2 separate regions of the Homo sapiens genome follow, and region 1 is linked to region 2. The links come from fine-mapping of genetic effects on gene expression. A gene starts in region 2. The other region holds a variant in brackets. All regions are shown on one strand. Distances are between the middles of the regions. Region 1 overlaps ADTRP (androgen dependent TFPI regulating protein). Region 2 holds the start of ADTRP (androgen dependent TFPI regulating protein).

Evidence for each region.
Region 1: its variant is fine-mapped to the expression of ADTRP in blood mononuclear cells (TOPMed, PIP 0.94).

Annotation. Positions count from the first base shown.
Region 1 is chr6:11,712,346-11,715,265 of GRCh38, reverse strand. ADTRP (androgen dependent TFPI regulating protein) reads left to right here. Exons shown (of 6, transcript NM_032744.4): 6 at 754-1,743. The coding sequence ends at 788. Among named protein-coding and RNA genes, the nearest start is that of ADTRP, 65 kb to the left of the region's middle. RefSeq lists an enhancer at 741-890. The variant C/TC (reference allele first, on the strand shown) is at 1,302.
Region 2 is chr6:11,777,120-11,780,039 of GRCh38, reverse strand. It overlaps ADTRP (androgen dependent TFPI regulating protein), which reads left to right and starts at 1,237. Exons shown (of 6, transcript NM_032744.4): 1 at 1,237-1,433. The coding sequence starts at 1,281.

The sequences.
Region 1 (2,920 bases), 65 kb after region 2:
GGAGCATGGATTTGCTGCAGGAATACCAAGCCAGAACTACCAGGGCTGTAAGTTCTGGAATGGAGGAGAAGTTTTTAAAGTAGCATTGACAGTATTTGGCAACAAGCACAAAGGATAATGAGCTAATGAAATTTCACAAATTGCAGAGCTTACACAAAGATTTATGATCATTAAATATGGAGTACCAACTTGTTGGCTGAATAGAAGTCATTCTACAAATCTAATGCTATAATTTCAGTAGAATAATGCCCCTCTAATGAGCTTACTCAAACCTAATCCATATGCCAGTACTTTTCCACCAGGCTGATGAATTCATTTGCTAAGAGGTCACAGAATGACCCCAATTAGTTGAACATCCACCCTTCTATTTCCTCTCTAATTTGATGTGGTCTCTTCATCTCCATCTGCAAAGTCTCAAAGTTTGCTGATGGATTGTGTGTAGCCTGCAGACACTCACTCAGAGTCACAGCAATATGCTTCCTCTTAGCTATGCAGAGTACCTGAAGGCAAACAGCATCGTGGGTGCCTGGCTAACTGTGAACCCAGCACTGAGGGAGGACGGCAGAGTTGTTCTCTGCCCCTGTCATCGTGGCAGCTGTTTTTTCATAACTCCTTAAACTGCATCTTGTCACCTTGGGAAAAGTGTGTTCAACTTTCCACTGCCCCAAGTCAGAGTGAATCTCTACCCACAACAAAAATACCCATTAGGGAAAGCCTGAAGCCTGAGGTCTGTCTCTGTTCTTGTTTGTACAGGTGACATGAGGCAGCCACGGAAGAAGAGGAAGTAATTGCACACCATTTTCCAAGAACCAAGAAAGAAGAAAACACAAGAGATTTTTCTCATCTTTTTTTTTTTTTTCTGGTGGAGGGAGGTGGTGGAGGAACATAGCAAAGTAGGAGGGACAGAGAGTGATACTTAAATTTAATAAGAGGTTCGTGAAGGTAGCTTAACTTGAGAACTCTTGGTTTTTTGAAAGGTTGACTGCACATGCCAAAAACAACTCCTGCTATCTCAGAATTAATTATCTTTGACCTTCGTGGAGGATGGTCTCTGGTTAAAATCTGGCCAAAGAAACTCACATAAACTTGGTGTTAGAGAACATCTAGAGAGAGAGAGAGGAACTTAGAGTCATTTAAACTCTTCAGTTTACAGAGAAGGATGCTGAGGACCTAGATGAGAAGTTACCTGCAAAAGGCAAAAGGGTTACTTAGTGTCAGAACCAAGGCAATGACTTCTCTCTCCCAGATCTCCTAGCTACTGGTCCTGGGCCATTTTTTTTTTTTTAAATAATCCCAACTTT[C/TC]TTTAAAAGACAAGCATTTCAGTAAGCTAGTTATTTTCATGGGTTGCTCATCCATTTTTTTCAGTGATCTAAAAATGTAGGGAGATGGCTACTACTGAAGTTGTCTGTCTACTTGGGATAATAGCAAATTAATTGAAGACAATGGGAAAGTAAGTTATAAAAAATACTGGGAAATCTGTTTCTCTTCTGAGCAAGCATTCAGGGCAGGTATAAACATCAAACATAGTGACATTGTCAAAACCTCTTCCATTTGAACATTGATTAATTCATCAAATAAATGGTATAGTAATAAATTTTGCTTGCAGAAGAATCTGGATGGGAAGTGATAGAATTATAAGGGCTGTTGAGATTGCTTTGCTACAAAGCACTTTTCTGAATTAGTGTGTGGTTTAACAAAGCTGATTTCCAGATGCTTAACAAGGATTCATGATCCCTGCTGTGATTTTCCTAGTGTTATTTTCCTGGCCTTTATTTGTGGGCACATTTTTTAAAGAACACAAATGGCAAATGGCTATTGGTGGGTAGACATATTTGAGTCTACTAGTATGTCACTAGGCTCATATGGGTTGGGGTGTGGACACTGAAGGAAATTGGACTTGGACTTCCCAACCTAACATTATGTAGGAGAAATCTGGTAAAAATGAGCAAGAGTGGTCTTGAAGGGTTACAGAAGAGGACAGAATATCTCAGGTGGGAAGGCAGCCTAAGGGAAGACCAGGGCAGGCACCAAGAAACCTGCTTAATTCCCACTTCTTTTTCTACTGTTCTGTTAATATGGGCCTCAAGTCTTTTCCAGTTGGAGCTGGGAATACCACCTCTTTCCCCACATCTACTGCTGCCTCTTCACTGCTCCAAGCACCTGGTCTCAGCAGGAGCTCAGAAACAGTTGCCACAGTGGAAATTCCCCAAACGTGAAGCCCTCGGGGGATCACCCAAATGTTCCACACCCCAGAGGTGACTCGGGCTGCGTAACTCTCAGTCACAGTAAGCTCTTGGTGGGGATGAGCCTGCAAATTTCTATTTGTGGCTTTACTGGCCCTAGGACCAAATTAAACCTTGATTGCAGCATGCCTGGCCATTGTGCAATATCTCTTCCAACACTAGAAATGTCTCGGAACAATTTCCCATTGAGCACATGCCTAAGCACACAAGGGCATGCTCGGTGCTGCAGTAGCTTAAGAAAAGATACACAACAAAACAATAACACACTGATTAAACATTTGCTAAAAGGTATATGGTATTTGCAGATTGCATAGCACTATGTTAGGCCCTTAATAGAAAATGACAACTATAGCAACCACATGATGATACCAGCAATATTTGTGTAGTGTCAAGTAATTCATCACCACTCCCACTTATTCTAGCCCACGGAAACTTCGTAAGTAGGAGATGAGTTACGTTCTCATTTTACAAATGAGCAAACTGAGTTTCTGAGGGTGGTGTGCTGGGAAAGGTTTAACAACCAGCTCTCTGGGGAAAAGATGTCAGGCTCTGATTGATAATGTGTGCTCATTTCCATGGTGTAAACACTCTCCCCATGGCCTTTTTCAAGCTGGCAGCACGTTGCTGAATGTACAGTTGGGAAGAGATGTGGACAACCACTTAGTCCTCGAGAGCCT
Region 2 (2,920 bases):
AAATAAATTTCTGTTGTTTCCAAGCTTCCCAGTTTACAGTATGTTGTTATAGCAGCCCCAACAGATGAAAAAAAAAAAAAAAAAAAAAAACATGGTTACAATGCAGAACTCCATGGCGGGCTCAGGTTTGCTCTCCTCCCATCTCCCAATCCTGATATTGGGAGTCTGTTGACTCTTAGGAGGTGGGTTTGTTTATGGTTTGTCCTCCTTGTCCAGCCTACAGTTCTTTCTGCTAGTACTTTTAAGCCCTGGTTAAGTCATTGAAAAGCACCAATTACAGACTTACATAACTGTGTCAGGAGCATTTCTCTGAGGGATTTGCTCACCCCTCGGAGTCAGTTGCCCAGGGAAACAAGCTGGCGATGTCACAAGGCATCCACTTCTAGTTCTTCCTCAGTTCCCTTCTGTGGAACCTGAGTCAGAGCCTAGTCCGGCATGCTGCCTAGCCCAGCCACGTCTCATCCTATTCATGGCAGAGCGGGGACTCTCACCCTCTCCCAGCAATGTCTAAAGTCAGGTATTTTGGGGTCATGGCCATAGTAAGGATGGTCTCCTGTGCTGCTTCTTCCCTCCCAGGGCACAGAAATGCCTATGCAAATGGAGTGTCTAGGACAGCCCTGGGTTACTCTTGGTTCTCTAGGGTATAGTTACAAAAGTGAAAAAAAAAAGAAAAGAAACCATTGGAGCTGCTCCCTGGAGGATCAAAGGTTGTTGCAGACTTTCTAGAATCTCAGAGACCTCAGGAGCAAAATTACAACACACTTTTCCTTTCTACTGTTCATGCCCTAAGCACACCCATGATCTGGTTTATCAACCTGCTCCTCCTTTTCTCAAGAGATAAGGTTGCAACTTCCTTGTTATATGCAAATGAAAAGAAAAGAGACTACAGCCATGGAAGTATTTCGCTAGATTTTCCTAGTATTTCATGCTTACTTCATTTAACCATGCCCCTGCCCCAGTGCCCTAGTGAAACAGTACAATGTACAGCTCTTGCATTGCTACCTGCCCTTCTCAAAGCCCACATGTTGTATTTTATGCAAATCTACAGATTATCTATCATTATCTAAATGCAGGCATCTGAAAACCAGCAGTAATCCTGCCTCTGAAGTTTATCAGGAAAGGAGCTTAAAAGAGAACCAAATTCAGCCTGTGTTGGAACTCTCAGTCCCAGAGGGGTGTGGTTTGTAGCTCTCCGGCCTGCTGTTGGACTTAGGCTGTGACCCACAGAAGGACGCCAGAAAGTACTCAAGACATTCACGGTGCCCCGGTCAGCACTCGCCATGACGAAGACTTCTACATGCATATACCACTTCCTTGTTCTGAGCTGGTATACTTTCCTCAATTATTACATCTCACAGGAAGGAAAAGACGAGGTGAAACCCAAAATCTTGGCAAATGGTGCAAGGTGGAAATATATGACGCTGCTTAATCTGGTAAGTCCATATGTCCGTACCAGGAACCGATCCATTTCTCTAGAATATCAGTGCTGCCACACATATCATCTTTGGATTTTATTAAATACACAATTTTGTTATTTGTCTTCCTTCTTCACCGTTTTGTGAGTTTTGGGTTTTTTGTTTACTTAACAATTTGCTCTGATAAACCCAATTTGGAAATTATCTATAGTTAACATTTCTATGCTGGCTCATTGTTAAATGCTCTCTTGAAAAAAAAAATCTCATCTTGGAGCTCTTTTCAGATGAGCTCAAAGAGGGGACCATGCTAATGGTTTCACCATGGGATTAACTACAAATGCAGGAGGCATTTTGAACTTTGCTTGGGGAAGTCTGTGAAGAGAAGGCAGAGTGGCGTATGGTGTGTAGGAAGTGTAATTTCCAATGAAGGAATAATGCCATTTTACAGCACACACAGACTAACAGATTTATCTAAGAAAAGCAAACACATTTTGCCATGTTCAGCTCCCACCTCAATTTTTTATAGGTTCAGGCTCCATCTTAAAGGACAAATCACCCAACCGAATGGCAAATACACATTTTCAACTATTTAAAAACCAATCTTATGACTTACTCCTTTCTTGTCTTCCTAACCTGGCTGACTGCATTCTGATGAAGTGTGAATGAATGGGAGAAAAGCAGATTATGAAAAATACTTTGAGGAATAGCTTAAAAAAATACTTTTAAAGTTAAAAGCTAATAATGGGGAATCATTTGGGGATGTGAATTAATATTTGAGGTTTTTGACTAAAATCTTGGGTGCCACATAAACATCTGTTTTCAGAATTGTAATCCTCATTTGACAAGCGGAGAATGTATGTGGTCAGAAACTGTGACACTCTGAAATGCTAAGGACGTGGAAATGGAGAGAGTTAAAATCAAAGAGGCCCAAAGTGGCTGCTTCCTCCTCACTGGTTGGTTAGTGGCCTCTTGATTTGGGCCTGAAAAATTGGAACCCTGAACACAGCTCTAGTGTCTTTGAAAACTTCAAGGTGACTACTTGTTTCAATCATGGAATTTTATGAGAAAAACAAACAGAAACAAAACAAAAAATGTTTTTTGTATAACTAGCAGTGCCACAGTAAACAACAACAACAAAAAACCACACACACACACGCGCATACACACACACCCCTAAGGTTTGTGTCTCTATTGGCTTTCTATGAAAAACAGTCCACTAAAAGGGAAGTGTGTCTGTAGTTAGGACTGACTTTCTAATAAAATCCAATTCCAGTATGAATGTCCTACCTCACACTATGTGTGGCTAAGAATAGATTTATCACCACACTCATTAACTAGCTCCCTTACCTCTTTGTATACACACACACACACACACACAACTGATCCTGACTTTTTAATTCTAGCTCACCTACATTTCCAAGAGCCCTTATTTTCCAAGAGTGAGAAAAGTCTCTTATCTTGTCAATGATACTATCATTTCCTAGTGTTAATCCCAATTTTGCTTC